4 linked regions of the Homo sapiens genome follow. The protein of the gene in region 2 interacts with the protein of the main gene of each other region in a pairwise test. Each region holds a gene or a part of one and is shown on either strand. Other genes may lie near its edges. The genes, in order: SLC10A6, BTN2A2, TMEM52B and SYT1.

Region 1 (7,865 bases), on a different chromosome or scaffold from region 2:
TTCACTTTTGTGAAGTATATTTGTTTATAATTATAAGCTCATTTTCAGATGGCTTTTTATATTTTTCTGTGAAACTCCCACTTGTGCGCCAAACTATCCTGTCTATGTGCCTTATCGTCCCCAGAAATGTCAGGCTTTCAAAAAGTGTATCACAGGGGCAGCACATGCAAGTTTGGATTGAAAAAAAAGTTGGTAAGTTGGGGTGAACAATTTCCCGTCAGTTATTTCCTACCCAATGGGTGTTCACCCACCTGCAACAATAAGAAATCCATCTATCAGCTGGAAGAGTCCATAGGCCAGTGGGAAACTCAACATCTGGACCAAGTGCTCAGCAGTGAAAGATAACTGGAGCATGGTGATGCACATCTGAATATTCTGAGCTCCAGTTTCTAAGGAAATTGTCCTGCACCTACCAAAAAGAAAATGTTTCAAGAGTAACGCACTAGCAATAAGAACTATTCTAATATTTTCTCATATGCATCATAACAATTAGAAGCTATGACCTCAGGCCACTGAAAATGTGTACTCATTCCATAGTTATTTGCTGAGTGCCTATTCTGCAGGTGGTCTTCTGAGAGGCACGGTGGAGTGAGGCTTTGCAAACCCTGCCCTAGGCATCTGAGTAAAAAGACAAGATAAACACACAGGAGAGGTTCAGCAACAACACAAGACAAAGTATGGCCAAAGGCCACGCAGATGTAGAAATTTAGAAAATGGCAGAAGGGGTGAGAGAAGGCTTCACAGAGGAGTGGGATTTAAGGATGGAAAAAAATAGAAGAAGCTTTTGATGAGGGGGAAATATTATAAAAATTAAAGTTCCAGGGAGAGGTGTGAGTGTGGCCTGTTCAGCAGGCATTGCATATACTGTAAGCCAATCTGCAGAGAGGAGAGGACTGGAGGAGACAAGAATGGAAAGTTGAGTTAGAGATATGATGCAGGACATGGTGGCTCATGCCTGGAATCCCAGCACTGAGAGGCAGAAGCGGGAAGATTGCTTGAGCCAGGAATTCAAGACCACCCTGGGCAACAGAGTAAGACCCTGTCTCTACAAAAAGAAAAACGTATATATATTTTTGAAAGACATATGAAACAATATAAACTAACCAACACTTAAAAACAAATAAACAAGGCCAGGCACAGTGGCTCACGCCTGTAATCTCAGCACTTTGAGAGACCAAGGTGGGTGGATCACCTGAGGTCAGGAGTTCGAGACCAGCCTGGCCAACATGGTGAAACCCTGTCCCTACCAAAAATACAAAAATTAGCCTGGCGTGGTGGCACACGCTCCTGTAATCCCAGCTACTCGGGAGGCTGAGGCACGAGAATCACTTGAATCCAGGAGGCAGAGGTTGCACTCCAGCCTGGGCAACGAGGTCTCAATAAATAAATAAATAAATAAATAAATAAATAAATAAAAACACAAAAACCCTGAATAAAGACCAAATTCCTAAAATGATTATCTTTGGTGAAAGAGTTTGGTAATAATTTTTCTTTTTGCTTTCTACTTTTCTATACTTTATTGGTTTTCTGGTTGCATAAAATGAAGTAAACCTCATTTGAAAAGACAAAGGAGGGAATAGAGGGAAGACCTGGGCAGGATGTTGAGGGCTGAGTTAAGCAGTTTCACGTCTCCAGTTTATAAAGGGAGCCTGCAGTGTTTTATATGTGGAAGTGAGGAGATAAAAGAGGTGTTTCAGAAAACAAACAAGCACCTCTGTGCAAGCTGGACTGGAATGGGGAAGTAACAAGGGTGTGTAATGAGGGGGTGAAAATGCTGTCAATGGTACAGGGCAAGCTCTGTGTTCATACGTTATTTCTACTTATTCTATTGCTTGCTACACTTGTCTCAAACCACCCTCACTTCTTTGAGACTTTTGTCAAAAACTCGATATGATTAAGCTACAAAGCTGGAACTCACACCTGCACCATTCATGAGCCAAATCTCAGTCCTGGGCTTTGTCAGGCTATCAGGTATGAAAAAGATGGGATTGTGGACTACATCTTGCCATAGGAGTACTTTCTGTCCAGAGCCAATTGCATTTCAACCACTCAACAGACTGTGTTCCTAATTGTTAAATTTGGAAACAAACCCAGGTCCAAATCCTAACTCCACAATTTTCTAGCTCTATGAACTTGGTCAAGTCACTTAATTTCTCTGAAGGGTCTGCTCATCAGTAGAATGAGGGTAGTGATAGGATCTACTTCTCAAGCTTGTAGTAAGAAGTAAATGAGATAGATGGGGTAAAGCTTTACCGGGCGCTTAGTACAACCCTAAATGTTCCCCAAGTGGATTAGAAGTAGCATAAAGCCAATTAAAAATTCCCAACTTTCACCTTTGGAATTCAACTGCATAGTTTACTCTTCTTTAGTAATTTTTTTCTGCTTTTAAAAGTAGTACATACTTATTGAAAAGCTTCAAAAATATACCAAGGAAATACTAAAGAACTAAAATTATCCTTAATTTCGCTACTCAAAATTAAACATTGTTACCATATGGTGTATTTCTTCCAGTATATTTTGATGCATAGAATTCTTTTTGCTTTCTTCTACGAAGTGGGAATCAAATCATGTCGTTTTCTATTCTTTTTTAACTTAAATTTATCTCTTCCTATCAATTTGGCCTTTGCTTTAATTTACATAAAGAATTACCACAATATTTTCCATGAATTGCCATGAATGACCCTCTTTTATGCTTAGTTATCCTGTCGATTCCACTATGTAAGTCAAAACTCTTCATGTCTCCTGACACAGGCAGCAAAGCCTACCAGTGGCAGTGTGTTAAATTTACCTTCCTCAAAAAAGTTTATGGATAGTTTAACTATACCTTTGCCAAGACTGGTGGGTAAAAAGTGCCAGCAGAAAACCCGTGACATGGCCAATCAAAGGAAAGATGAAACTGATGGTCAGAAGGGTGATGTCTGAATTCCAAGATCCTTTCGCCAGGACCACACCAGCAACTGCGACCACCAGAAGGAGGACCCCACCAACAACGGCCCCAATCTGAAGCAAACAATAAAATAAGTGAATATAAACTCAGGGTTTTTTGCTCTATGATACAAAGTCCATCAAGGTTGTAAAATGCTTGGGATCTAGAAATTTTAGAACAAAGAAGGGACTTAGAGATGACTAAATACAATTTCATTTAGTAGAGGAGAAATCTGAGTTCCAAAGTGGTCAAGTAACTTGCCTATGCTAGAAATTGGTGGAGTTTGACACAAATCTAAGTCTCGCTTTAGCATATCTACCTTTCTCTTCAAGTAGAAGATTTTGCCAAAAGGATTGGGTAGTAGAGTTCTATTGTGGGTAGAACAAAAGTGTAAAATGAATGGAATCTGACAATGAGCTTCCAACACCCCTGCACACACCTCTATGACCCTCTGCTTGTGACCTCCAGTCTGACGTCTGCCCTGCCTGACCATCTGCCTCCCCTCCCACCGCCCCTTCAACCACCAGCAGCTGCCTGCTGCTTTGATCCCTGTCCTTCTCCCCTCCAAATAAAATTTACCCATTCTTCATTGGACAATCTGAGCTAATACTCATGATCACATGAGAAATACTGATGGAGACCTCTATCCTCTCCCAAATGGATACTGTCCTTACTTTTGTTGTTTAACAAGAACAGAAACAAAAGCCAACAATAACAAAATTTTGAATAGTTTGAGATTTAGATAAAATAGGAAGAAAGCATAACCTAGGGTATTTTGGGAAAATCAGGATCTTGGCAAGCTCCTGTTCATATCATGTAGACAGTAAACTGTGTACCTAGTTACAGTGTCAACCTTGATTTGAAATGATTCAGGATGTGAAGGAGGATGGTCGTAGGAAACTAGAGAAGACAACAAACAAACAGAATGACCCAATATACCATAAATGTGTTCTGGGGGTCATTTTTACTGTTCAAATACAGAGACAGACTAGACCCCTGCCTAAGAAAAAGATGCTAAGACAAGAAAGCCTCTTGGTCAGGCATGGTGGCTCATGTCTGTAATCCCAGAACTTTGGGAGGCAGAGGTGGGCGGATCACCTGAGGTCAGGAGTTCAAGACCATCCAGCCAACATGGCAAAATCCTGTCTCTACTAAAAAATACAAAAATTAGCCAGGCGTGGTGACACATGCCTGTAATCCCAGCTACTCAAGAGGCTGAGGCAGGAGAATTACTTGAACCCAGGAGGTGGAGGTTGCAGTGAGCCAAGATTGCGCCACTGCACTCCAGCCTGGGTGACAGAGCAAGACTCCGTTTAAAAAAAAAATGAAAGAAAGAAAGCCTCTGAATGTAACATCCCCTCTTCCTCTCTCTACCAAAGATTTCAAAGTTTAATATCCACCAAGAGCAAATGGGGAACACTTAAGTTTGTTCAGAAAATGTGTCAGATCTAAAATTAAAATGGAACTAAGGCCTCTGAATGTAACATCCCCTCTTCCTCTCTCTACCAAAGATTTCAAAGTTTAATATCCACCAAGAGCAAATGGGGAACACTTAAGTTTGTTCAGAAAATGTGTCAGATCTAAAATTAAAATGGAACTAAGAACAGGGAATGAAGATATACTAAAATAATGATTACATTAGCCTAGTTTTTTTTTTTTACTAAGGTAGTCTAGAATATTTATGCATATTATTAAATGTTTTGCCATAAATCCTATGAAATACCCAAAAGAAAAGAGTTTTAAATTTGCTCGTTACAGAAAATAAAACTGACATGTAAAAAAATGTATCTGGTTTCTCCATTGACACTGATGGACTGATAGAGGAGCTGGAAAACTCCAAAAGCATTATTTTTGTTATTGTTGTTAAATGCCCTTTTAAGAAAAATAATCAAAGATAGAGTACTTGAAAAGCAAGAAGTTTCCATGATCATTTCCCTCCTCTTGTTTTGTAAACAAAATCATAACTACCACACTGGAAATTTTCTCCTACTGAAATAACAATAATAAATGTGGAAAAGGGGCCAGGCACAGTGGCTCATGCCTGTGATCCCAACACTTTGGGAGGCCAAGGCCAGAGGATCCCTTGAGGCCAGGAGTTGCAAACCAGCCTGGGTAACATAGCAAGACCCTGTCTCTAAAAAAAAAATCTTTTTATTAGCAGGGCAGGATGGTGCATGCCTGTAGTGCTAGCTACCTCAGAGCTTGAGATGGGAGCATCATTTGAGCCTAGGAGATCAAGGTTGCAGTGAGCTATGATCGTGTCATTGCACTCCAGCCTGAGTGACAGAGCGAGACCCTATCTCAAAAACTTAATTAATTTTTAAAAATAAATGTGGAAAAGATGGGACTTTATTCCATGAGTACAGCTAAAAAAGGAGAGTGAAAATCAGGTGTGCACTATTGATGTTAAAGTCATCCATATGCAATACAAATGTACTATACTAAGCCATCCTCCAGCTCTCTGTGCCCAGCTGATTTTCTGCTTGGCAAGCCCTCTCCTCTCATTCTCCATCGCACTGAAGGAATGGTGGGAATGGTTTGGCCTTGTGCATAACTGGGAAAACAGTGTCCATTAGCACAGGCATATAGAGTGGCAATGTTCTGTGAGGTAGAGCCAAACGGCAAAAGCTTAAACCAAGCCAAACCATAAACCAGAAAACAAAATTAACTGAGATTTACTACATGAAACTCTAAATAACCCCAAATGTTTACTTCTTTATAAATGTAAAATATAACTGAAACATTTTTAAAATCTTCATGAAAGCCACACATATTACAACCTTCTATCTGCTAAAGTGATACATAATCAGAAAAAAAATGGAAAGCACCCTAGGAGACTCACACCATTGTTAAGAATGCCTCCTCTTTACGTTTTGTTGTTTTGTTTCATTTTTTAGAGATGGGGTCTCACTCTGTGATCCAGGCTCCAGTGCAATGGCATGATAATGGCTCACTGTAGCCTCAACCTCCTGGCCTCAAGCAATCCTCCCACCTCAGCCTGCCAAAGTTCTGGGATTACAGATGTGAGCCACTGCACCTGGCCTCTTGAATTATTTTTAAAAGCCATTTAACAAAGACATTTGCTTGTTTCTCCAGCAGACAAAGGGCAGGACTGCAAAGACAAGAGGAGGTAGAAAGTTCTAGTCACCATCATTCCATAGCTAGACTCCTCAGTGCTTCCTGGATGATTTCATTTAAACAGTCTTATTCATGTAGTCAGCAGCCCTTGCTCATGTGTACAAACAACAGCTTTGGCCGTGACCCCAGGAATGCTTCTGCAAGACAGCCCTTCCTCCTACTCTTCCAAGAAACCAGCCATATTACTAAACACTGGGGTTCCCTTTCATGCTCACTTGAACAGCTTCTGCCTCAAGAGCACCTGTGTGAAGCCTTGTTTATGGATGGGCCTGGGCTCTTCTGTCCACACACAGGCTTTAGCTTTCCTGACACTAAATCAATAGTTGCTTATTTTCCAGGGCGTCATAAGCCTCAGGGTACAGAACTATGGGAGTGGCAAAGCAAGGCTTACAGGGTGGAGGAAATATGATCCCTGGATCCAAAACCACAGGATGTGTAAGAAGAATTTCTGGGTGTGGGGCCGTACTCAACAAGCTCACTTGTCCCAGCCACTGCTCACTTCTGTCTTTCAGGCCCCTGAGTCTGAGGACGTGCCAACAGTGGCCATGAAGTCACTCACCTTGAGAATGATTTTGGATTGTTTTGGCCATCTGTAATTCACATAGACACCAAAGGCCACAGGAATGGTCAGGCACACAAGGGTAATTCCTAAAGAGAAGAAAAATCCATGAGAGGGTTTTCCCTCTCACCCTGACTGCACAGTACTTCCCAACAACTTCTATTTCAATTAGGTAACAGCTTTAAACTGACATTTTCCCATGCCACTTCCCAAGTCTGGATAAATGCCTACAATATTGGCTCCAAAGTTATATAAGCTGCTCATAACATTTTGCGTCTTGTGAGTGCCTTTCAGAACATATTATCAAAGCAGAATATATTAAATAACTTACTGATCAGAAAAAAAGTTGCACATAAAATCATGGTTTCTAAATTAAGGTTTCCCTCAAATTTTACAGATTCAGTGGGCTCCCGCTATTGTGAGGAAGTGGGTTCATTCATGGTTTTGAACTATGGGCCATGGGTTGTAAGCCTTCAAGGTGTTTACCTGAGACACCAGATTGACACTGAGAGTCTTAAGAATCATAGTGTTGGCCAGGCACGGTGGCTTACACCTGTAATCCTAGCACTTTGGGAGGCCAAGGTGGGTGGACTGCCTGAGCTCAGGAGTTTGAGACCAGCCTGGGCAACACGGTGAAACCCTGTCTCTCCTAAAATACCAAAAAAATTAGCCGGGTGTGGTGGCCTGCACCTGTAGTACCAGCTACTCGGAAGGCTGAGGCAGGAGAAGGCAGAAGTTGCAGTGAGCCGAGATTGCACGACTGCACTCCAGCCTGAGTGACAGAGCAAAACTCTGTCTCAAAAAAAAAAAACAAAAAAACATAGTGCCTATCACTTTTTCAAAAACTGACCACACTAGAAAAGGCAGATCATTTCACCACATTTCTCTTCTAAGCTTGCTAAACCCACAGAGATCTTTAGGAAAATGGCAGACTTTCATGAGAAATAATATTCAGAAGAGGAGATAATGAAAGAGATATGGGTGAGACTGTGACATGTAGATGAGTTTTCATAATCAGTAAGAATTATTTACATTCAACCTCCAAGAAAAAGTCAAGGTTCGCAGGCAATGTGAAAGGTGAAGTCACAGGAAGGTCTAATTAGAGCCACTAGATCCAGTTAAACCTTGGAGTATAAAGAGTCCAATTGCTTTATAGTCTAATTACATAAGGGTTTGATTCCTGCTTTTTCAAAGTAAATTATCTGGCTTTCTTTTTTTTTCAAAAATGCACTCTTATAGGGA
Region 2 (7,865 bases):
TTTGGACACAATAGATTGCTTTTTCACAAAACATCCTATCTACATTAACCTATAACTGATTTATTAATGCTATTTTAACATAAATTAAAAGATAACATTTTAAATTTTTGTTTCAATGTCAAATGTCATAAATATTAACCCAAATAAACAAAAGCTCTTTAAAGTCCTCAATAACTTCTAAGTGTCTAAAAACATAATTAGATCAGGAAGTTTGAAGCCACTGGTGTCCCCATTGAACCTGAATGCTGACGTAGACCTGGTCCAGTACTGCCCTGCTCGACCAGGACCTCAAACCTCAACCACACTCAGGGACTAAGTACTGACCCCTTGTTTATTGCAGGGACATCTGAGCCAAACCACATCCACATGAGTCCATGTTCTTCATTCATCTTCATCCCAGGTCCAGGCCTGTGGGTGTGTGCTGTGGAAATCCTGGGGTTGGGTGGAAATGAGCCATCATCTCCCAGGACCCTTTAGCTCTTATGGTGGGACTTAGCCATCCTTACAACCTTGGTCCCTCCCAGCTCTCTGGTTCCACTTCCTCTATCTCTGATCTGCATATCTGGTTCCCTCTCCCTTCTGGTGGTCCTGTGGATTCCTCTCTCCTCTCTCATCCTGGTGAACCCTGTTGGCCTCATTCCAAGTCCACAGCATCTGGTGCCAACTGGCATATTGGGCTTAATGTGGTTATCCTGATTTTAAACAGTAGGTTCGCTGCCCAACAGCTTCTCTCACTTTCTTTTTGACTGGGAGCTATGAAACAACTAGTTCCCTATGCCTGGATCCCATCCCATAATTACAAGCAAAGGAACTACTAAAGCCACAGACTAGTGAGGAGGAGAAAACTGGGGCAGAGGGCTGGAGTGGGTGTGAAAAAGGCAGCTGGAAGATGTTCTCTTACGTGACCAGAGGGGAGGAGGGCGTGTCTTTCATTAGGGGGGTTGTGCGGTGGCTGCTGAGATGGCCAGGGCTTATCTGCATGGCTGTGAGTCCAAGGAATTGATTCTATAGGCTCTGGTGGGTCCCCACTCTGTGAAGTTTCAGGCCCTCTTCAGGCACCATGACCCCACTGGCTCCTGTGAGTGCAGGGCAGATGAAGATGGGGCTGTCATCAGACCCTAACCTGAAGAAGGGCCTCACAGGCACAGTAAAGGCTGAACGGGGACATGTGTAGATGTGCGATCTGTCCCTCATGTTGTAGAAGGAGACATCTCCAGCTTCATAGTCCAGGAAGACGCCCACCCGGCAAAGGGACTCCTTCAAAGGGAGAATCCTCTCAGGGGAGGACAGGGCCCGGTATTGGTTTCCAAACATCTCCAGGGTCCAGAAGCCATTCTGAGGAATCAGCAGGACCTCCCCTTTCCTCTCAACACTGTGTCTGCAGACCCCCACAGTCCACACCATCACGTTTTCCACCTCCACCTCCCAGTAATGTTTCCCTGAGGCGAAGCTCTCCCATCCCAGGACACAAGGCTGACTGTCGAATCTCTCTGGGTTGTCAGGCACTCTCTGCCTGTAGGGGCCCCGCCTCACACTTCTCCGGTCCTCTGACAGGAAGAGCTCGGGATGAGCGGTGTCTGGATCCAGGACCACATCAGCTGCAGAGGAAGTCTCAGGTTTATGCCTGGGGTCTCAGGAACCCTGGGGATTGTGTGGTTCCTGGTCCCCAGAGAAGTCTCAGAAAGCTGAAGGGGGTTCCCCATGTAGTGGCCGTTTCCATGAAGGTCCCCTGATCCCAGGCAGCTCATACCCTGAGAATTACGGAAGCTGCACTTCTATCTCTCCAGAGACAGAAGCAGTGCCCCCAGGTTGAGAAGAATTGTGGCTCTATGAAATCCAGAGAGTTTAGGAAATGAGCCAAAATTAATGGTTCCCAGTTTTTCTCAGCATTCTAAGATCTGATCCCTTTTCTATTCAAGATATATGATCTCTGGGACTTTCTTTAGTTAGAAACTTTCCAACTTGGCTTAAACCATCACAGAAGCTTTATCTCCTATTGTTCCCCCACATACCTCTCAATGGATCAATTAAGTGAGTCTATCATTACACACTGTCCTAGGTGGTGAAGGACCTCTTCGTTGGTCCTATAGGTTGTTTTAATAGGTGACAACTGATTTAAGTGGCTGACAAGGGCACACTTCAAAGGATAAAGAAGGAGAATAAATGTGTGCAAAAGAAAACCTGGTGCCTGAGGGATGTGTGGGCAAAGTTAGGGAAGAAATACTTCAATCCAGTTTTGCTTTAACAATATGAGTCTGACATCTACCAGGATTACTTCTCCCATACAGGAAAAGCCCCAGGAGCTGAGCATTCTGCAAACCTCTACCTTCTGCATGTATTCTTACTTATTCAGTCTACCTTTCTATTGCATTAAAATGATTTTCTCTTTTCCACAAGTTGATATGTCTGATTGTGACAAGTTGTGATTGTGTCCCAAAATGACAGTGGCAATTTTGAAACTCGCCAAAGAGGAAAGGTCCATGGGCCCTGGTATCTGGTAAAGTTTGGATTCTTTGGTGCTGACAGGCAGAGGTGCCGAATCACAAGATGAGAACTCACTGGAAGTGGGCGATTGGTTTCTCTGTGCTCTCCCACTCACCCTCCCACTCACCCAAACCCCTTCCCCTGGCAGACTACATGCAGAATATCAGTGCTCTCTTAGAGGCAGAAAGGTATTTCTGGCCACCTATTTGTACACCATTGCATCAGGCTTACTGGGGACCCTTATGGCCTTTTCCTCACATAGGTCTTCAACTGTGCACAGTCTATACCATTCCCAGGATATGAATTGCTAAGACAGCATTATCTTATTTCAAATTGATCCAGAATCAAAGAGCAATGACTTCTGAAATGTAACTCTTAGGAGGCTACTATGCATGGGAAACCTTTGATAATCATGCATTAAATTATTCCAAAAGAGAAAGGGTCCTGGGGATGTAAACTGCAGGGTTCATTAAGAGCTGCTGGGGTTCCCTGACAGAAGAGCCATGATGCATCATTGCTGGGACACCGTTGATGAACTGACCCCAGTTCCCTATGGTCCCTGTGTAGCCCTGGGCCCCTTGCTCATCTCCTCTAAGGAGTCCTGTTAGCTGGCTAGTGGGGAGAAAGCTGAGATCTGAGAGAACATCAGAGGCACTCACCAGCATGTAAGAATGTTCTTCTCCATCCTGCAAGGGACAGACAGAGGTGAATGTCACGAGACACTGCTAAGTAAGCAGAACACAAATTGTACACGGAGTAGTTCAGGAAAGGCTAAACTTACGCAATTCTTCTTGAAGTTGCTCTGAAAACAAAATACAGAAACAAAATCATGTCTTCAACAGAAGAACTAAGAGAAATTGAGCTTGTATTAAACAACGTAGGAACCATCCTTTCTATGAACACCAACATCACCCTTCGTTTATGCCTAAGGAACAGTCAGAAACCAGCAATGATGTATGATCAGATGGCTGGGTAGTATCAGTACATTGTTAGACTTTTGTCTGAACTTTCGTTCAGCCATGTAGTGCTGCATATAGCCAGGTGAATGAATGTAATGTGTGCAGCATGGAAGAAAGAAAGCTCTGAATGATTACTTCTTATGACATGAGAGTTCCAAGCCCTTGTGGCTGCTGCTGTGCATTTCCTCTCTCTCTTCCCTAAGCCGGTACCTGTGAGAGCTGTGGCCTTTCTATGACAGTCAATTGTCCTCCTACTCATTTAACTTTTCTTTTTGAATTTCTTTCTATTTTTCCACACTTTCTTTACAAATTCCTTACGTGCAATTTCTTTTTCCTCTTGTTCAACTTTCTTTTCCCCTGACAGAATCTTTTTTTCCCTTTGAAGTTTCTTGATGCAACAGATGCTGACAGCCATGAAGATGATGAAAACAGCCAGGATGACAGTCATGGACACCATCCAGGGAGATGCGGTCAGGATGACAGCTAGGGCCACCATCCAGGGAGATGCGCTGGGCATAAAGGATTCTGAAAAGGCAGCCAGAAAAGTCCATTTAGTTTGAAATAGAACATCTGGATGAGAGTGCCCCTAAGAGCACATCTGAAGAGCTCCTCAGCCACCTGTTCTGTTGGCTTCTCCCTCAGAAACCTTAGATGGAGAAAGCGATGCTGGCTCAACACTGGCTGACACCTCAGTGACTGCCAGGGCCGGGCCCAGAAGGGGGCAAAGCAGAAACATCTGGAGTCACCATGGAAAGGACCAGAGTGCATAAAACTAACCAGCCATGCTGAGTCAGCACAGCCATCACCCTGCCTCAAACCACCATCACTCACGCCTGGAATACTAGAGTGCCCTCCTTCTTGTTCTGCTCTATTCTGTAATCTACTCTCAGCAGAGCAGCCCAAGTGAGATCATGTTAATTATTTGCTCAAAACCTTCCAATGCTTCCCACTCACTCACTCTAAAAGCCAAAGCCTGTTTGTGGCCTGTGCTGCCATATATAACGTAGTTGCATCACTCTGTGAATTCATCTCCCCCTACTTCCTGAACTCACTCCATTTCAGCCACACCAGCATCACCTCCTGGGAGTCCTGGAAACTGCCAGACAAGCTCCTTCCTCAGGCCTTTTGCATATGCTCTTCCTGTACCTTGGCTGCTCAGTCCTTAAGCATCTGATGGTTCCTTGTCTTGATTGCTCAATTTCCATCTTTACAGTGAAGTCTTCCCTGACCACCTTGTTAATAATTCTGATGCCTCACACCCCTGGAACTCTCTATTTTCTCTTTGCTTAATTTTTCCTACATGCTCGTCACCATGTGATAGAATATATAGATTATTATTTATTTAATCACTTGTTTCAATTATTTCATATATTGCTGTCTCTCTCTCGCGCTCCCTTTTTTTCTTTTTCTTTTTTAAGACAGAGTCTCACTCTGTTGCCCAGGCTGGAGTGCAGTGGCACGATCTTGACGCAAGCTCTGCCGCCTGGGTTCAAGCAATTCTCCTGCCTCAGCCTCCCAAGCAGCGGGGATTACAGGCGCCTGCTACCGCACTCGGCTAATTTTTGTAGTTTTGGTAGAGATGGTGTTTCACCATCTTGGCCAGGCTGGTCCTGAACTCCCGAACTCATGATCCAACCACCTTGGCCTCCCAAAGTGCTGGGATTGCAGGTGTGAGCCACCGTGCCCGGCCGCTGTCTCTCTCTAGAATATGAACTCCTTGAGGAGAGAAATTTTGATATATTTTGTTCAATTATTGACCCTTGGTTTCCTGTACAGTCTTAAACATAAGAAATGCTTGTTGAACATTTGTTGAATACATTTATGAATGTCTCTTGATAGGGAATTTCCCCAGCTCTGTCCTTTGGGAAGTCCCATAGACAGGAAGGGATGGCTGCAACATACAGGAATGCCAAGCATAGACAGTCACCCACCCACACTACTCTCCAGGTTTGATGGTTGTCCTTAATATTTTACAACTGTTGCAGCATAAAGACCTAATCAAGAAAAAAAAGACCAGGTTTACCCTCAGAGAAGAGGCTCCTACTCTTGTGTTTTGGGACTCTTTGAATCTCCCTTTGTGAGGAGGGGAGACGTCTCAACTCAGCTGCAGCCTCCAGCTCCTCAGGGCCCAGGACCATTCCACCCACACTGCTGCCCCCATTCCCGCTCTGGGCTCCATCTGGGTGCTGAGGATCCTGCATACACTTGATAGGTCTCAGAGGGCAGAGAACTAACCTGGAATAAAAATGACAGTTTCCTTCTCCTGGCCGAGCAGGGTGTTGTTGACAGAGCAGGACACATTCCTCACATACTTGTCTCTGATGATCACAGCTGTGGTGACCATGAAGAGGCCGTCAGCATCAGCGATGGAAACCTCCTTCAGGGCGGGCACAACCTCACCGTAGGGGTCCCTCCACACTGTGAGGGGCTCTGGGTACCACCCTCCAGATATGCACTCCAGCCAGATGCTCCCATCCTCTTGGGCCTTGATTTCAATGAGGGGCTTAGACCCAAGGCCTGGAAAGGGAGACCAGGGCTCAGCCAAAAGGCAGTGGTATCTTAGCCCCTACTGCACCTTGATGGATGGTTGCTAGAAAGACCCTTGGTTTTGGAGAACATCAGGAAACCAATATGCAAAATAAATTGTGAGATCTCAAAGAGAAAGGATCACATTGCACACTTTTCTTTATGCTCCACCTGAAGGCCCCATCACAGCACCAAGCATCTATCTGTCTGCTATAAATGCTTGCTGTGCAATTTATTCTGGCAAAGACTAATTTTCTCACTTCCAGGAGGGTGTGTCCAAATTCTCAACAGGCAGGTTGAGAATTTCACTTTCTGCTCCTGGGATGACTTCTCTGCAGACCTCAATTTCCTGAAGCTCTAAAATAATACACTAATGACAGAAACCTATCAGGTTGGCAGAAGCTTTTTTTCCTTTCTTTCTTTTTTTTTTTTTTTTGTAGAGATGGGGTTTTGCCATGTTGCCCAGGCTGGTCTCAAACTCCTGAGCTAAGGCAATTCACCTGTCTTGACCTCCCAAAGTGCTGGGATTACAGGCATGGGCCACTATGCTCAGCCTTGGCTAAATCTTAAGAAACTTTTTGAACCAAAGTCACTGACACTTCTGTCTAGTTCAGGGCCTCACATCACCATGGCTATCTACCTCCATAGGAGGTGATGGTTTTTAGGAGAATAGACAGAACTAGCTGGCAAAGCCAATTCTTATTCTAATTCACAGTTGTTTACCTCCCAGAGGTTCCATCCAATAGAGAATTTTCTTACAGTCCTTTAAGAACATCAATGTATTAGAAATATCTGGATGCCCCTGGGATCCTTAAGATAACCATATTGCCTCCTCAATGTCAGAGATCATCACCAAAAATCCTAATAATTCAGGCTCATCCTAAATATATTCTATCTTTACTAGAACCTTCAATGAAAGAGAATACCCAGAGTGAGAGAGCTGCAAAAGCATGGTCCTGGGAGACCCTTCAGCCATGCGTGATCATCCAAACTTCTCCTGAATAATTCCTTTGTAAAGTCTCCCAACAAATTATGTTAAAGAAAGAAAATTAAAGCAATCACTTAAGCCTAGTGCTTTCTGCTCTGTTTAATTTTTGTCAGGAGAAAAAAGCTAGTTGTGCATTTGAAGGCTCACACAGAAATCCTGAATTAGAAAAGAAATTAAAATACCTCAGCAAATTGGAAAACAAAGTCCTACAAAACATTCCATGGGTTCAATACGGGTAAGCATGACACAATAGATTTAAGGGAAAAATCAGCCACCAACCAATCCAACAAACAGAGTACAATAAGCAAGCAAACAAAAAGTCCTACAGCAACCCAATTCAGACTAGGGAAGGCCAGGACAGGGTTGGTTTTACAGAGAAAGAGTAGTGGGTCCCTGCCACATACAACCATTCATTACTGGGCAACATTGCAGTGCTGCTGTGAACACAGTCATGACAATGGGTCAAGAAGCCCTCCATCCACGATATTCTGTTTTAATCAGATGTAAGGTTGCCTTTGTGAGTAGCAAAGATAGGGTCTCCTACCTGTTATGATTTGGGGCCCCCTGGGAAGAACCCAATTTCCTAGTCCTTGCCTCCACTGGTCTGATGGACTGAAATGTCACCACGAATTATTCTGCAACTTAAAGGCTTTTTTCAGTCCTGAAATATACCTTTTAAAGCAAAATACACTAACTGCAACACTGAGGTAATCACTTAGTGTCACTTTTAACAAACTATTAGAAATCCCAGTTTAAGTGCATTTCTATGCTGAAGCCTTGCCAATTTCTTCCCAGCTAAATTCTTAGTCTTTCTCTGTGGAGTTAGCAGGAATTATAGATAACTTTGTTTCTGTATTTAGTTGTGCTTTAATAAAAATCATCTATTTATATAAAAGTCACTCTCTCTG
Region 3 (7,865 bases), on a different chromosome or scaffold from region 2:
GTATTTTTAGTAGAGACAGGGTTTCACTATGTTGGCCAGGCTGGTCTTGAACTCCTGACCTCAGGTGATCCACCCGCCTTGGCCTCCCAAAGTGCTGGGATTACAGGAGTGAACCACCACACCCAGCCAAGAATGTTTCTGCATCCTGCAACTCAACCCTGCCCTTTCCCCTTTCAGACTTAGATCCCTTTCCCCCAGCCCCCGATACTATAGACTCCTTAGGATTATTTATTTTTACCTCATCTCTTTTCTTTTTTTTTTTTTTTTTAGACAGTGTCTCACTCTGTCACCCAGGTTGGAGTGCAGTGGCACAATCTCGGGTCGCTGCAACCTCCACCTCCCAGGTTCAAACAATTCTCTCCTGCCTCGTCCTCCCGAGTAGCTGGGATTACAGGCATGTGCCAACGTGCCTGGCTAATTTTTTTTTTTTTTTTTTTTTTTTTTTTTTTTTTTGAGACGGAGTCTCGCTCTGTCGCCCAGGCTGGAGTGCAGTGGCGCGATCTCGGCTCACTGCAAGCTCCGCCTCCCGGGTTCTCGCCATTCTCCTGCCTCAGCCTCCTGAGTAGCTGGGACTACAGGCGCCCGCCACCACGCCGAGCTAATTTTTGTATTTTCAGTAGAGATGGGGTTTCACTGCGTTAGCCAGGATGGTCTCGATCTCCTGACCTTGTGATCCACCCGCTTCGGCCTCCCAAAGTGCTGGGATTACAGGTGTGAGCCACCGTGCCTGGCCAACAAAAGTGCCTGGCTAATTTTTGTATTTTTAGTAGAGGTGGGGTTTCACCATGTTGGCCAGTCTGGTCTCAATCTCCTGACCTCAAATAATCCACCTGCCTCGGCCTCCCAAAGTTCTGGGATTACAAGCATGAGCCACCATGCCCAGTTATCTTTTTTCTTTTTCTTTTTCTTTTTCTTTTTCTTTTTCTTCTTTTCCTTCCTTCCTTCCTTCCTTCCTTCCTTCCTTCCTTCCTTCCTTCCCTCTCTCTCTTTCTTTCTTTCCTTTTTTATTTTTTGATGGTGTCTCACTCTGTAGCCCAAGCTGGAGTGAAGTGGCGCCATCTCGGCTCACTGAAACCTCCGCCTCCTGGGCTCAAATGATTCTCGTGCCTCAGCCTCCCGAGTAGCTGGGACTACAAGCCCGTGCCACCACGCCCAGCTAAATTTTGTACGTTAATAGGGACGGGGTTTCACCATGTTGCCCAGGGTGGTCTCAAACTCCTGAGCTCAGATGATCTGCCCGCCTTGGACTGAGCCACCGTGCCCAGCCTTGGTTATCCTTTTTTCCTAAGATGACAGTGAGAAAGGGGAGGTAGGAAAGGTGAACAGCAACACATCATATCATTCTATTTTGTTGTTGTTGTTGTTTTGAGACAGGGTCTTTCTCTGTCGCTCACCCAGGCTGGAGTGCAGTGGCACGATCTCGGCTCACTTCAACCTTTGCCTCCCGGGTTCAAGCGAGTGTCACGCCTCAGCTTCCCAAGTAGCTGGGATTGCAGGTGTGTGCCACCATGCCTGGCTAGTTTTTGTATTTTTAGTAGAGACGAGGTTTCACCATGTTGACCAGCTTGGTCTCGAACTCCTGACTTCAAGTAAGCCACCTGCCTCAGCCTCCCAAAGTTCTGGGATTACAGGCATGAGCCACTGCGCCCAGCCATCACTCTCTTTTCAAAATAAATATCCACATTTTGCCAGCTGGTGTTCTGACTGGTACTTGCTCCTCAATTTTAGGAAAGAGCATAGTCCAGGCACAGTGGCTTATGCTTGTAATCTCAGCATTTTGGGAGACAGAGGCAGGTGAATCATGAGGTCAGGAGTTTGAGACCAGCCTGGCCAACATGGTAAATTGTCTCTACCAATAATAAAAATAAACAAATAAATAAATAAAAATTTAAAAAAATATAGCCTGGTGTGGTGGTGGCTGCTTGTAATCCCAGCTACTCAGGAGGCTGAGGCATGAGAATCTCTTCAACCCAGGAGGCGGAGGTTGCAGTGAGCTGAGATTCCCACCACTGCACTCCAGCCTGGGCAACAGAGGGAGACTCCGTGTCAAAAAAAGAAAGTAACCATTTTGGCCAGGCATGGTGGCTCACGCCTGTAATCCCAGCCCTTTGTGAGGCGGAGGCAGGTGGATCACAAGGTCAGGAGTTTGAGACCAGCCTGGCCAAGATGGTGAAACCTCGTGTCTACTAAAAATACAAAAATTAGCCAGGCATGGTGCAGGTGCCTGTAATCTCAGCTACTCTGGAGTCTAAGGGAGAGAACTACTTGAACCCGGAAGGCGGAGGTTGCAGTGAGCCTGAGATTGCACCACTGCACTCCAGTCTGGGCGACAGAACAAGACTCCATCTCAAAAAAAAAAAAAAAAAAAAACCGTCATGGAAAGAATAGAACCACAGAAGAAAAGGGAAAGTGTCTTATAATCATTGAGAAAATGTTAAGGCTAAAATTTAGTGTATCAAGCCTTGAAGAATAAAGAACTGAAAGTACATGTCATTAATTTCTTTAAAAATATAAAATAGTATAGATAATAGAAAAAGTAGATTTCACAAAATCCAAGACGTTTTGAAAAAGGCATCCGTTTGGAGTTCAAAATAGTTTTTAGCAAAGTAACTATTTATAAACTGGCTAATTCTTCCTATTCAATATTTCCAATAGCCTCCAATATTTCACTTCTTTCTTTATCATGAGCCAGACAGACCCTTGAGAACACAGCTTCAGTGACAGCCCAGGTCACTGCACCATCAGGCTTCTGGGAATGGAAATTATTGTGAGTCCTGGAATCTTTAATATTACTCGATCAGTGGTTCTACACCTTTGCACCCTTTTCATTATTCCCTTAAATTGGGTCCTCCTCCCAGGTTAAAAGTTCAGTGTACTCACATGTGATAGTGCTCTGGAGAGTGCTGTCGTGATCGAAAGCAATGACGGTCACTTCACAGGGTGGTGGGCCCCCATCTTCCCCATTTTGCTGGCGGCTCAGACAGCAGCAGCGGAAGCACAGGGACGTCAGGCCACACAGGAGAAGCAGCGCGCCAATTACCACTAGCAACCTGCAAAAGCCCACGGGGCGAGTGGGAGCTCTGGGATCTGGCTTTTTTCCCAGCTCTGCTGTAACCAGTCTTTAATGTCTGTGTTTTGATTCTTGTCTAAACATTTTATAGAATAATTATAAATATTTTAATTTATAATTTTAATTTCAAGGCTTTTGCTTTATAGATACACCTCCTTATTTTGTCAGCTGCAGTAAGTCAATTCATTAGAACAAATAGTAAGACATTTAAGGTAGTTTGGGGGGCTGCTTCTTTTTTCTTTTCTGAGACAGAGTCTTGCTCTGTTGCCCAGGCTGGAGTGAAGTGGCACGATCTCAGCCTCCTGAGTAGCCAGTACTATAGGCACATGCCACCACACTCGACTAATTTTTTTTTTTTTAGACAGAGTTTTGCTCTTGTTGCCCAGGCTGAAGTGCAGTGGCACAATTTCAGCTCACCGCAACCTCTGCCTCCTGGGTTCAATCGATTCTCCTGCCTCAACCACCTGAGTAGCTGGGATTACAGGCATGTGCCACCACGCCCAGCTAATTTTGTATTTTTAGTAGAGACGGAGTTTCTCCAGGTTGGTCAGGCTGGTCTTGAACTCCTGACCTCAGATAATCCACTGTCTCGGCCTCCCAAAGTGCTAGGATTACAGGTGTGAGCCACCGCGCCCAACTTTTTTTGTATTTTTAATAGAGATGGGGGTTTCTTTATTTTGCTCAGGCTGGTCTCGAACTCCTGGCCTCAAAGTGATCTGCCTGCCTCAGCCTCCCAAAGTGTTGGGATTACAGGTGTGAGCCACCACGCCCGGCCAGGCTCTGCTTTTTAATTCACTAAAGTAATCTTCGTTGAGATATTTCTAGAACAGACTCCGAGGGAAGGACACAGTAATGGTTTGATGTTTGCGGAGGAGATGGTATTGAAAAAGGAAATCCTGACATATTGTCACATAGGTAGTGATGAAGTAATGAAATCTTACTCCATGAGATGCTAAGTAAGTAGGCAGGTTGTCATTTTTAATGGCCTTGAGGAATACAGTGTCTTTCTGGGTATTATAAGTGAAACTTACCATATATACCAGAGATGTACCCAGTCTGTGGTCAGGCAACTATAAAGAAAGAATAAAGTTTTCTACATTAAAAATATAGTCAATCCCTGTTATAACTCCAGACTCAGAAATATGAGTTACAATATGATGTGATACCTTGTTATAAATAAAGCACCATGGGTTATGTTTTTAAAATTCACTGTAGCTAGTTGAATCTTTTGCCAAATGATATGCTTTAAATAGTACTTTATACTATAGATGGCATTGTCTGAGTCATTTTGTAAATCATTATAAAACAAACTAGTGATCATTAGAAGTGTCCATAGAAAACATGTCTGTGCCTATTGCAAACATTTATGATAAAAATGACCAAGAAAGGGCCAGGTGCGGTGCCTCATGCCTGTAATCCCAGCACTTTGGGAGGCTAAGGCTGGCAGATCACGAGGTCAGGAGTTGGAGACCAGCCTGGCCAACATAGTGAAACCCCATCTCTACTAAAAATACAAAAATTAGCCGGCCGTGGTGACGCCATCTCAAAAAGAAAAAAAAAATACTAAGAAAGAACTTGGAATGCAAGTTTACAAAGAGTAACTTTGAAAATGGATGTGAAACTTAAGGCTTGTGTATATTTGAGGTCAATAAAATGTAAACATAAAGAAAATTTCAGTTATGAGTATGAAAGTCATACAATCACATTTGTAATTTATCTTTTGCAAGCTGTTGCAACACTCCCACTGAGAATGTAGGAAAAAAAAAACTTAGTTTCTTCCTGCTATACTCTCCCAACCCTCTGACACCAGATGTGGGTGGGTGAGGATTTCCGCACACACCAGGCAAGCAATCTTCCAGCAACAGACAACAGCTGAGCGTCCTCTAATTCAATTCAATGCCAACACCACCTGCTTGGAGATAGGATCCGATCCCATAGGGTGAGGACTCAGTCCCCTAGACGGCTCCCCAGAATTCTGATGCCAATCACAATTTGTTTTGCCTGTGCTTCTGACCTACTGGTTATAAATTGGGGGTTCCCTGACTCCCTCTTGAGGTTGCGTTAATTTGTTAGAGCAGCTCACAGAACTCCGGGAAACACTTACTTACATCTACAGTTTATTACAAAGAATATTACCGAGGATGCGGATGAAGAGATGCGTAGAGCAAAGCATGTGGGAAGGGGCACGGAGCTTGCAGGTCTTCCGAGTGCACCACCCTTCAGAAACCACTGCCTGTTCAGCTTTACAGAAACTCTTCAAATCCATCCTTTGGGATTTTCATGAAAGCCTCATTATGTAGGCGTGATTGATTAAATCATTGGCCATTGATGATCAACTTAAACTTCAGCCCCTCTACTTTCCTTGGATGTTGAGGGGTGAGGCTTTAAGCATTCTGCATTGGTCCTTCCAATGACCAGCCCCATCCTAAATCTACCTAGGGGCTGCCAGCCACCAATCAACTCATTAGCATGCAAAATGATGCTACTTACTTTGGGGATTTTAGAAGTTGTATGCTAGGAGATAGGGACAAAACCAAATATATATTCTCACAATATCACACCCACCGTAAAGAGTACCCTAATTTTTCACATCCAGGATCAAAACTAATTTGCATATCCACTGAGACCAAACAGGAAGAGGGAAAAAAGTAGAAGCCAACTTTACCATGATGAAAGCTAAATAATGTTCTGAGTTCACTATGGCAATTGTAAATTTTCTCTGTAAGAATGAAAAAAAAATAGGGATTGTATGGGAGAAGGAGAAGATAAGTTCAGGAATTGGAGAATGAGGGGAGGCAAAATATTTGTGTATCTTTGAAGAGTAGTAAATTTTGTTATTTAATAATTCTTTCTGATACAGGAATCTACTGAAATCTAGTGAATCTATTTTTATTCTCTGGTCACACATTTATAGAAAATATAGTTTTGTTTTGTTTTTCACTGAACAATGACTCCTCTTGGTTTTCCCACATTTCTTACTTGTTGAAAACTCTTCTAGTTCTAATTAGACTCTGGTTTATAGGAAAGGACTCTTCCTATGGTGGAAGATGTGTAAAACCTCAGAAAGCAGGTGTCAAGTAGTCAACACCCAATTTGCATGTGACAGGTAATCAAGGCTATCACCCTTTCCCTGGGTTTAACAGACCTGGCTATTGGGAAACCCTTCCCATGGCTAAATATGTATTTTTCTTCATCCTAAACACGTTTTTATTCAAAGTGCCACTACTTTTTAAAATTTGTATTTTACAGTTCCTTTAAGTGGAATGATTCTTTTGCATTTTTATCTTCATGTCCTCTGTGTCTACATAAGACTTAAGTGTGACAGGTTTGGATTAGTTGATAACTACATCAAAGTGATAGCTAAATGAAGTCTGCCCAATAAATGTTAACATGCCCTAAAAACTAGAAAATACTTTCCCAATTTAAAGTAATAATGTTACTTTGGAAATCACCCAAATATATATGCCAGTGACTAGATACTAAACCGTCTGTCCTGGTGAGTCACTGAGGAGCAGGGCTAAGGAAGTCTTTTGCAAGTCTCTATGACTGTATAAGTTGAGATTAATCGTGCTGCTTTGATGGGAAGATTGGCTTTGGGTAAAAACATGCTGTCAGCAGTGTTATTTTGAGTGCTTAAGATGACAAAAACACGTCTTTATTTTGTGATAAGTCATCTATGAGATCTATTACTTAAGTAAAAATAAATAAAAAGAAGTCATAGATGTCTAATGACATCTTGACTCTCTTTTGGGGTAGTGATGTTTTGGTCTGTTGCTCCTTCCTCCCAGCTTGAACTCTATACTTACTGTTCAGGATTACCACAGTTTTCCTCACATCTCGTCCCAGAAAGCTGTAGAAAGAGAAATTGTCTTATACAGGGAAATTGTTTTGGCCACTGTGTTCAGCTGCTTACCAATCATCTCTCATGGTTGTGCTGTGTTAGATCAAGCAGTAAGAAGGTCACGGTCATAGGGGCAGTCTATTTAGGACTGCCATTTTCATCTCTCCCATACTTGCTGGCTTTTGTACTTGAGGTAAGGGAACCTTGAAGAACAAATATCTCATCTGTTGTGTTGATGGTGGGTGAGCATCACCCTTTGTGAATGAGAGGTAGCCATTTACATTAATTTGTTTGTAGTAGAAAATTCCTGATCTCTCTGTCCCTTGGGATATTGCCATTGTCCTCCTAATTCCTGCCCAGTTGAATTCTACACCACTGCTCTTTTTTTATCCTGTTAGTGTGACAATGACTATACAAAGGAAGAAGGGGAAAAGCGAGGGGGCCAGTGGGACAGAGAGTCTTATTTATCGAATAGCTACTAGATGCCACTCAGACTGCTAACAAGTTTTTTTTTTTTGTTTTTTTTTTTTTTTTTTTTGAGTCTTGCTCTGTCACCCAGGCTGGAGTGCAGTGGCGTGATCTTGGCTCACTGCAACCTCTACCTCCCGGGTTCAAGCAATTCTCCTGCCTCAGCCTCCCGAGTAGCTGGGACTACAGGCACGTGCCACCACGCCTGGTTAATTTTTGTATTTTTAGTAGACACAGGGTTTCACCATGTTGGCCAGGCTAGTCTCGAACACCTGACCTCAAGTGACCCACCCACCTCCGCCTCCCAAAGTGCTGTTGGGATTACAGGTGTGAGCCACCGCGCCCGGCCATGAACTCTTAATATTTCATAACATTTAATCACAATAACCCTCTTGGTGGGTATATTTAACCTTATCTTGAAAGGTTAAGGGACTAAGGCACAGGGTTTTAAGTAATGTGACCAGGCCAGGCGTGGTGGCTCACGCC
Region 4 (8,773 bases), on a different chromosome or scaffold from region 2:
TCTAACTTTGGTATGGGTTTTTGGTAATATTAGACAAAGATTTGTTCCATTATATAATCAAACTGTTTTTATTTCTTGTTCCCCCCAAATTACTTAATTATTACCATTAGGAAAATAAATATTATGTTTCAATTTGGAATTAGTGATAGCTCTTCTTGGTTGTTGCACAAACTGGAAATCATAAGAACTATATTTCAGGCTCGTATAATTGTCTGCATTAAGTGTGTGTTCTTTAAGATTAGATGGCTCTAACTGTTTTGGGAATTTTCTCAAAATCAACTTAATATACTGACATCAAAAGTGATGAACTGATATTATGTTAATGGTGTTATTAGGCTAACAGGAAGTTCAAATTAACTTTCAGATTTCTAACATATTCTACATTTTATTTTATTAATCTTCCAGCTCATCTTGCATATAATTAATACAAGCATATAATTAATACTATTTTTTAGTTTCAATTTCAGTCTAATATGCAAATCGTATAAATACAATGTTATTCATTTTCATATTTGTTGATTAGAACTATCTGATAATTTGACCAGATGAAATAACTAATATTCTCCATTATGAAATGAAGTTCAAAACTACTCAGCAACAACTCTCAATCATGTGGTATTTTTGTGAAATTAGTATTTTAGGATTTTCCCTATATATTAGCAGTCTTCAATTCTGACAAAAATACCTCGAGGCATAATTATCATATTTACTCTGAAACATTAATGAGATTTACTAAAATATCCTGTCAAAGGGAGAAAAAACAAAGATTGTATGAAATTGTGACATTAGACTATTTTGTGGGATAACAAAGTAAGAATTTCCTATAATATATCATGTAAGGTCTCTCCCCAATCCACTCACTATATATTGGAATTAGTTCTGATTTCCAATACACAGATATTGAATTTTTTAGAAGTATTTGAAAAACTACTCATATCCATATTTTTAGATGTTATTTCTATAATTAACATTTGTAAAGAGTCATGAAAATAAATGTCACAAACCAAGCCTAAATTTTCACATATTCCTAAGACAGTGGAGAAATGAGAAAACAAAATCTTAATTTTCTCACATGAAGGCAGCTGGCTTCCTTTTTGTACATCTTTTCATGTCTAAACTTGTTAATTCAGTTGTACATACATGTGAGGTAATTAAGTGATTGTCCCTTTGTCCTTGTAACCAAAAGGTGGCACCTCTAAAAACCAGAGTTAGCTTTCAACAGAGACACTATTTTTTTTTTTTTTTCATTTAAATGTCAAAGCCCTAGAAAGAAAATCGTTTTTCGTGACTTGGTAATTCTATTTAGGGAGAGATCATTGCCTCAAATGCAAAATGGTTTGGAAAATAGTACACATTACACTGATGGCAAATGAATTCAGCTCTTCTCTAAGTTGGTGTGTAAACTTATATATTAAACGTACGTAGTGAAAAAATACTCTCTGAGATACAAAATTAGTGTGGAAGGTCAGACACAGTTAAGATAGAAGATTCTCTTTTCTTATATCAAGTGGAGTTCTAGACAAAAAAAAGTAAGACTCTGCATTTCCCCTGATAAATAAAAAGAAGTGTTTTGTATACTAACATCTGTGGATTTCTCTGTGTTCAGGTAAGACCCACTTGGAATGCTTTCCTATTACATCAAACGAGGCATTTCTCTATACCTCCTTCCATCTGACAGTACTATCGCTTAGCTGTCCCTGAAGAATAATAAGAAAAGAAAGCTTATATCCCCAATGATGGAATTAGAGACTGCTGAAGCTGCTGTAAAGGCTCTGTCCAACAAGTACCATTTACTTGACCTATTATGCAGGCAGCCAGGGGCATGTTGGTGTTTTGATATATTTTTCTTTCTTTTAACAAGACGTTACAAAAATGTTTTCCCCTTCAGGATTTTTAAAATTTAGGGTATCTTTCTAGCATTACTTTCTAAACTTAGTTCCAGTACAGGAGGATTCTTGTCCAACTGAGCCTCCATGTGCCTTCTAAAGGGAGTGCTGAAATTGTATAAACATCATGTTTACATCCATTAAATATTGTCCTATTAAAAGAAAATAAAGCCAGGCATAAGTTTGGTATCCAGACAATAAAATGCAAATAGTACAAAGGTAGAATAAAGTGAAAATTCTACACAAATGTAGCTTCCATACAAAAGTTAAACAGTTGCTTTATTTCACGAAAGGGTTAATACTGGAGAAAGTGAATATCAACATGTACACAAAGCTAACTAGAAGATTAGCTTTCTCAAAGTAGAAATCCAAGCCTCCCTATAAAATTGTTGTCCCTTGCAAATGTTTTGAAACTTTACATTTTTTGATCCCCCAACAACAGGCCATACCAAGAAACCTCAGGAAAGTAATAATCTATTTTAATTGTTTTTTTTTTTTTGTTACTCAAGAAAGCTTTCAAAGTTCAGATATTAACACTGATGTGCAATACCAAATTGTTAGCCCCACAGGACAGATGGAAACAGGAAAAGTCAGATGGTTGGCACTCAAAAGCAAAAGCAATTAAGCAGTTGAAAGTGGGTTGGATTGTCGGTTTATTTTTGTTCCATTTGAACGAATCAAGTGAGAGACATAGACTCTTGCAAGGAGGAAATCAAGTCAAACTTGACGCTTCCTCTCTCTGACAGCCCAAGCTGGACTGGTTGTCTACTCCCCTTATTCAGTTTAATTGCTTTATGTGCTCTGATTTTCGCAGAGCTTGTATTCTATCTTGTTTACGTTCCCCCCCCCCCCCATATCCCTCTCCCCAACAGAAAGAAATCTTTCTCCTTTCTTCACTCCCCCTCTTTCCTCTAAGAAAGGCAATCCTCTCCAGGAGGAGAAAGAAACGCTGTGCGTGCTTAGGGTGGGAGGAGGGCGAGAGGGGAGGTGTGGGAGAGAAAGAGAGAAAAGATTGAGATTGGGGGTGGGGGACGGAGGAGAGAGAACAAGAGAAGGAAAGAGGAAGCAAGAAGATGGGGGATGCCCAACATCAACTCCAGGCTCTAAATCACGGGCGCTGTGCAAAGTGCTTTTCCAGGAGATGCACATGTAGTCTCATATTTCTCACAATAGGCCACCCGGGGATCCCTCCCTAGGTCTCAGACTCCCACCACTAAAACCCAAGTGTATCGAGAAGAAAATCTTTGGGATGGATTCGAGCAGATAGGCACCGCCGAGGTGGCCGCGCCGCCAGTCCCGCTTCCTTACCTGGAGGGCGGACCGGGAGGTGGTGCCGGGTCTCGGTCCCCAGTGCTCTCCCCGCGTGGACCGGCGCGAGGCACACGCGTACTCTCGCTGCCTCCGCTCTTGGAGGGGCAGCCTGCAACACAAAAGGGGTGTGTGGGTGTGGGTGTGTGGGAGGTTTTCCAGGGCCACCAGCTGGTCCCACGTGGTCGCCCCCACCCTACACACACCCCTTCGGGGCGCCAAGCCCCCCTCTCGGCTGAGCACCACCCTGGGGACTTGCCCGGGGTGCAGCCTCAAGTTGCCGCTGCTAACTGCTGCTGCCGCTGCCGCTGCTGCAGGAGGAGGTGGAAAGACACTGGGGGCAGTACTCGGTCTAGAGCATCCCCACACTGCAGCTTCTCCAGGAATCCCTCCAGTGAGGAGGCGGCCGCCCATCATCTCCGAGCCCCAGCATCCTGATTGGCTCCACCTCGGGTACGCTGCGCCAAGGAGCCAATCCCCGCGCACTAATAATAGGTGGATCCGTTCAGCCAACATCGCCCATCCCAGTTCTGTTAGTGTCTCTCCATCCCCACAGCGGACAGGGACCTGGGAAGCGGGGTGGAGGCGGGTTGGGGGAGGGGGTGAAGTAAGAGGGGAACAGATCCCAAGGAGACACAATCAAGGGCGTCTGATAAAACCTCTAGGTAGACTCAGGAATGCCCCACAAGCTGTTCAGCAAGCAGTATGCACAGGAGAAAGAGAGCATAATACAAAGCTTTTTTTTTTTTTTTTTTACTCTCAATCAAAACCTACCCTGATACTGAGCATGCCCAGACTGCAACAGCGACCTAGGAGTTTCGATGTGTGTGGGTTCGCCAGCTGTGGGTTTTTGAAAAGCTGGGACCGGGGACAGGAGAGGTAGAAGTTTGTCTTTGGCCATTTAACCCGGCGGAGTTGTGAAAGCTGGGTAGGGTGGGGATGTGAAAGGGTTCCGCACAAGTGTCCTCAAACTGAGCCGCGGGGAGGTGGCCCACCTGGCTGCCGGAGGCTCATCATGCTGTTCTTCTGGGGTTCCGGGTTGGAAGCGGGGGCGGGATAAGCTGAGCTTTGCTGGAAGCCTGGGGACTTCCCGCGAAGGGTGCGGTGGAGCCGAGATGCGGGAGAAGCAGCTCCGTCCCATAGGTGGGGCCGGGAGCGCGACTCCACCCATCAGCGGCGGCTGCCAGGCCGTGGAGAGTGCACTGGGAGTTTCCATTGCAGCGACCAATAAGTTTGTACACTTGGGTCAAGTGCAACATTGTTGGAGATGCTTTTTTATTTTTTCATTTTTATTTTTTGCCACCTCCCTCCCCCATCTCTCTCGACCCCTTGCCAGAGCAGTGACGACTAAAGCATAGATTCTCTCCCTGCTTCCTCTCTTCCCAGCTGAACCGTTCTGCTCGGAAGTAAGAAGCTTTTCTCTTGTGAGGGCGGTGGTGACCTGATTGTCTCTAAGCTCTCAGGCAATTTATAGCTTGGTAATACCGAAATACCGAACAGGAAGGCTCAGCGGGTGGGGGAAGGGACCGCGCGCCAGGCTAGGGGCGGGAGCGGAGCCCAGCTGGGAGAGGGGCCCGTCCATTATCTGCTCCACAGGTGAAAGGATTTCAAAACGGAGAGAACTATTTCCCTTTCTCCCTCCCTCAACCTCGTTTAAAGGCCTTTGAACCTCTTATTTGTTTTATTTAGAAATCCTAGCATTTTGTGTAAACTTGATCAATAGCTACAAATGAGAACTCTCCTAATTGGGTTCTTTATTTTACTGAGAAGATTATCTTGGCATCTCAGGTAGGGAAATAAATAGCTATCTCAATTCCCCAAACCCATCCACTTTGAACTGGAGTTTTATTAACATTGGTGTGCAAAGGTAAATGTAGCAAGAATTCAATTAACAGTAACACATTTCTTCAAGTTTTTAATTAAATCTCTTCTACTTATGTAATGTTTAAGATTAAGATCCTTATTCTAAGTATACGGGAAAAGAAGGCAACGTGATATAAATATATCCTTCTAAGTGACAAACACTTGTATTTGGGCTATGCTTGAATAATAGGAAGTTTAACATTAGAGGTAGAAGTGTGAAAATAATGCACCCCAGACTTGTGACTTCATGTAAATATTCACTTTCCATTTTCCAAAATAGTCTCCAAACCTTATTTTAAAATCATTTCATAGTTGGAGAAATAAGATAAAAGAATTTGGTCTAAATTTTATTTCAGTTATTTAGTGAAGGAGAGGAGGAGGAGAAGACAGAGAAGGAAGAAAAACGACAGGATAAAAAGTAGAAGAAGTTGGAGGAGGAGGAAGGGGAGGAGAAGGAGGATGGTGAGGTGGAGGAAAAGGAGAAGAAGGAGGAAGAGAAGACGAAGAAGAATTAAGTAACCCTGTAATTTTGTTGTCCAATAAATATCTTTGGATGAGAAGATTATTATAATATCCACTTAATATAGATCTTTATTCTAAATATATGCCTAGCATACTTTCTAGATTCCAGTGATTAAAACTGGCACATTTATCCTATTTACCAATAGCTGCATGTAGAAAAAAAGTATGCTTATTTTAGAATAAATTAGTCAATAGAATACAAATACAGATTTTAAAATTTTTGCTCCAGACACTGATTTTGTCATTAATATTTTAGTCAATTTCTTTTCCTGTTTACTTCACATCTTACCTAGCAATCTTTCTATTTCAGTGGCCAGAATCCTTGGCAACATGAATGGTATCAGAAGTTTGTAACCCAATGTTCCTTGAGGGAGACTGCAGGTTAAAATAAGAAATGGGCTTTACATGTATATTGTGCTTAACTTTAGAATTGATAACATTTTCTGTACATAAATAATAAGAAGACTCTATTTATATGGTGACTGTAGCTATACTAAGATTTTAACTCTCCCTCCTATTCCTAAATTCTCTCCAAGCTCTTGGGAATGTGTTGAAGACGTCCTCCTGGATCTACTGGGCTGACACAACATTATACTTTGCCGCAAGTGTGTATCATCTCTTTGCCTATTGAAGCAGACTCATTTTTATTAAAAGGAAGATCGGGTCAATTGTTCTGTAGAGACAAAGAGAGAGCTCTTTGTCACTCTTATCATTCCATTTCTTAAGTACTTTTACATCTAGAGTACTTTTGCTGTTGAGAATTAACTTATCCCCTGATTGTATGGTATTTTAAAAATATTATTTTCAGAACTTTTACAAAATCTGTTTAATGTTTTGTTTCCTCTTTCTTCGTTAAAAAAGTGTTATTAATTTTTCTTCACATTTTGCTCTGATCAAGATCTCATTTTCAATATTTTCTTTATTCCTTTTTTATTGGATTCATCTATTTACTACTTTCATGCTTCCTTTGCCATCTATTTTAGGCTACAGGATCAGAATAGAAACTAAATTGGATTGGGGCACTGAGGAGGAAAGTGTGTCTTATGGCAAGAGTGGGAATTAGGGACATTAGAACTAGAAATTCATTAAGTGGAAACTTAGCCAAGGTTTCTGTAAACCACAGAAAGAATACTTAACGTGAGAGAGGTATCAAGAAAATTCTGCAGGTTGTTGGAAAGGCCAGAATTACCTGGTTGATCAATGATACTAAAGAGTTACATTTAATCCGGCTGGGCGCGGTGGCTCACGCCTGTAATCCCAGCACTTTGGGAGGCCGAGGTGGGCGGATCACGAGGTCAGGAGATGGAGACCATCTGGCTAACACAGTGAAACCCCGTCTCTACTAAAAATACAAAAAATTAGCCCGTCGTGGTGGCGGGCGCCTGTAGTCCCAGCTACTCAGGAGGCTGAGGCAGGAGAATGGCGTGAACCCGAGAGGCGGAGCTTGCAGTGAGCCGAGATCCCGCCACTGCACTTCAGCCAGGGTGACAAGTGCGAGACTGTCTCAAAATAAATAAATAATAAAAAAAGAGTTACATTTAATTAAGACTCATACATCATTAAACTTTATATCTTTAGTAGCCACAGTAGTTGTCTGGTAAAAGCTATTTATAAATATCATTACCCAGGATTGTTTCTTTAAAAAAGAAAAATAATTGACTTCTCTAAATTTTTCTATTTTTTTGTTTATTTTTTATATAGATGCAGATCTTACTATTCTTTTCACTTTATATCTGTGTTTCTCAAGATACTGACTTTTTGGTCTCTTTGCAGGACAGATAATTAATTAAATGTTTTCTGGTGTCAGAATTTGGGTAGAATTCCAGCTTCACCACTAATTGGCTATGCCACCTTGAAAAATGTACAAAACCCCTCCAAGTCTCAGTTTTGTCATCTAAAATATGTACATAAGAATACAACATTTATCATTAGGTTTTTTTTCTGGATTAAAAAAAGCAGTGCACATAAAGTGCTAGTTCCAAGCACATAGCAAGAACTTAATGACTATTATTATCATTTTATCATTATCATTGCTGCTACTTCTGCTACTACTATTTTTTTTTTCCAGATTTCTGGGTTATTGGGTTTCCTCCCATCATCTCATCCATTTAAGCCAATAGTGAGCCATAGACTCCTCACCTATGAGCATTAAAGGTAGAAGGGTGTTAATTCATGTTATAAGAACTTTTATTTATTTTTTGATGGGAGGAGTCAGTGTCTAACTCTGTAGCCCATGCTAGAGCGCAGTGACTCAATCATGGCTCACTGCATCCTCCAATTCCTAGGCTCAGGTGATTCTCTCAGCTTAGTCTCTTTAGTAGCTGGGACTACAGGTGCATGCCACAATGTTGGGCTAATTTTTTTTTTCTTTCTTTCTTTTTTTTTTTTTTTTTTTGCCATATTGCCCAGGCTGGTCTTGAACTCCTGGGCTCAAGTGATCCTTCCACCTTGACCTCCCAAAGTGCTGAGATTACACGTATGAGTCACCGCGCCTGGATACAGAACTTTTTTAATACGTAAAATGACAACAGTCATCTGTCTTGCATGTAGTAGTCTTACACTGTAATCATCTACGAGATGAATAATTTAGTTTTTAGGGATGGATACTTAAGCTTTTTTTTCATAAAAACATTTGTTTATATTATTCTTTCAAATTAAGAAATATCCAATTCTGGTGGCAAAAAAAAAAATGATGAACACTATTTTGTTTTGTTTTGTTTTGTTTTCTAGAAAATGCTCTTGAAGACAGTAGAGCCATCATTTTTATTTCTCTTCCATTCATCTTTCTCAAGATCATTTGTCCTGGGATTACTGCTAGTGATTTTGTAACCAATTGGTAAAGAAAAAACATGAAGGCTCCTTGTATCAGAATTAGATTAGAAATTAGCTGTGTTGATTTTTATACTGAACATCCATGGAATTTAATAAAGAGACTCTAGAAATGGGAGAAGAAAAAAAATGAATACTGATGGGAGTCAAGTCTCTGGAGCAGAGAGTTAGAGCCCCATAATTGAACGATGAAACTTCACAATTTCCAAAGAAAGGAAAACAAAGAGCTAGTAGTTTTCTATGTGGCTTTACAAAAGCCTTTTCTTAAAGATGTGGCTAAGAAAGTATTGGAAATGAAAAGGAGGACAGTTACTCAAAAAGTAATATACTGTGTCAGGCTGTTGAGGTTAGCAAGGAAAATATCA

The links.
Region 1: the proteins of BTN2A2 (region 2) and SLC10A6 interact in binary tests that used the Homo sapiens proteins (3 or more experiments, as listed by UniProt).
Region 3: the proteins of BTN2A2 (region 2) and TMEM52B interact in binary tests that used the Homo sapiens proteins (3 or more experiments, as listed by UniProt).
Region 4: the proteins of BTN2A2 (region 2) and SYT1 interact in binary tests that used the Homo sapiens proteins (3 or more experiments, as listed by UniProt).

The regions. Positions count from the first base shown.
Region 1 is NC_000004.12:86,825,169-86,833,033, forward strand, and holds part of SLC10A6 (sodium-dependent organic anion transporter), read right to left. Parts: intron 6,713-7,865; coding exon 6,624-6,712; intron 3,001-6,623; coding exon 2,825-3,000; intron 410-2,824; coding exon 252-409; intron 1-251. UniProt on the Homo sapiens protein: Transports sulfoconjugated steroid hormones from the extracellular compartment into the cytosol in a sodium-dependent manner without hydrolysis.
Region 2 is NC_000006.12:26,386,108-26,393,972, reverse strand, and holds part of BTN2A2 (butyrophilin subfamily 2 member A2 isoform a precursor), read right to left. Parts: intron 5,961-7,865; coding exon 5,679-5,960; intron 3,969-5,678; coding exon 3,762-3,968; coding exon of another isoform or gene 3,703-3,761; exon of another isoform or gene 3,287-3,702; coding exon 3,266-3,286; exon of another isoform or gene 3,171-3,265; coding exon 3,144-3,170; exon of another isoform or gene 1,828-3,143; coding exon of another isoform or gene 1,678-1,827; exon of another isoform or gene 1,599-1,677; coding exon 1,006-1,598; 3' UTR 1-1,005. UniProt on the Homo sapiens protein: Inhibits the proliferation of CD4 and CD8 T-cells activated by anti-CD3 antibodies, T-cell metabolism and IL2 and IFNG secretion.
Region 3 is NC_000012.12:10,181,605-10,189,469, reverse strand, and holds part of TMEM52B (transmembrane protein 52B isoform 2 precursor), read right to left. Parts: intron 6,921-7,865; coding exon 6,877-6,920; intron 4,141-6,876; coding exon 4,102-4,140; intron 3,051-4,101; coding exon 2,881-3,050; intron 1-2,880.
Region 4 is NC_000012.12:78,859,531-78,868,303, reverse strand, and holds the start of SYT1 (synaptotagmin-1), read right to left. Parts: upstream 3,531-8,773; 5' UTR 3,195-3,530; intron 1-3,194. UniProt on the Homo sapiens protein: Calcium sensor that participates in triggering neurotransmitter release at the synapse. May have a regulatory role in the membrane interactions during trafficking of synaptic vesicles at the active zone of the synapse.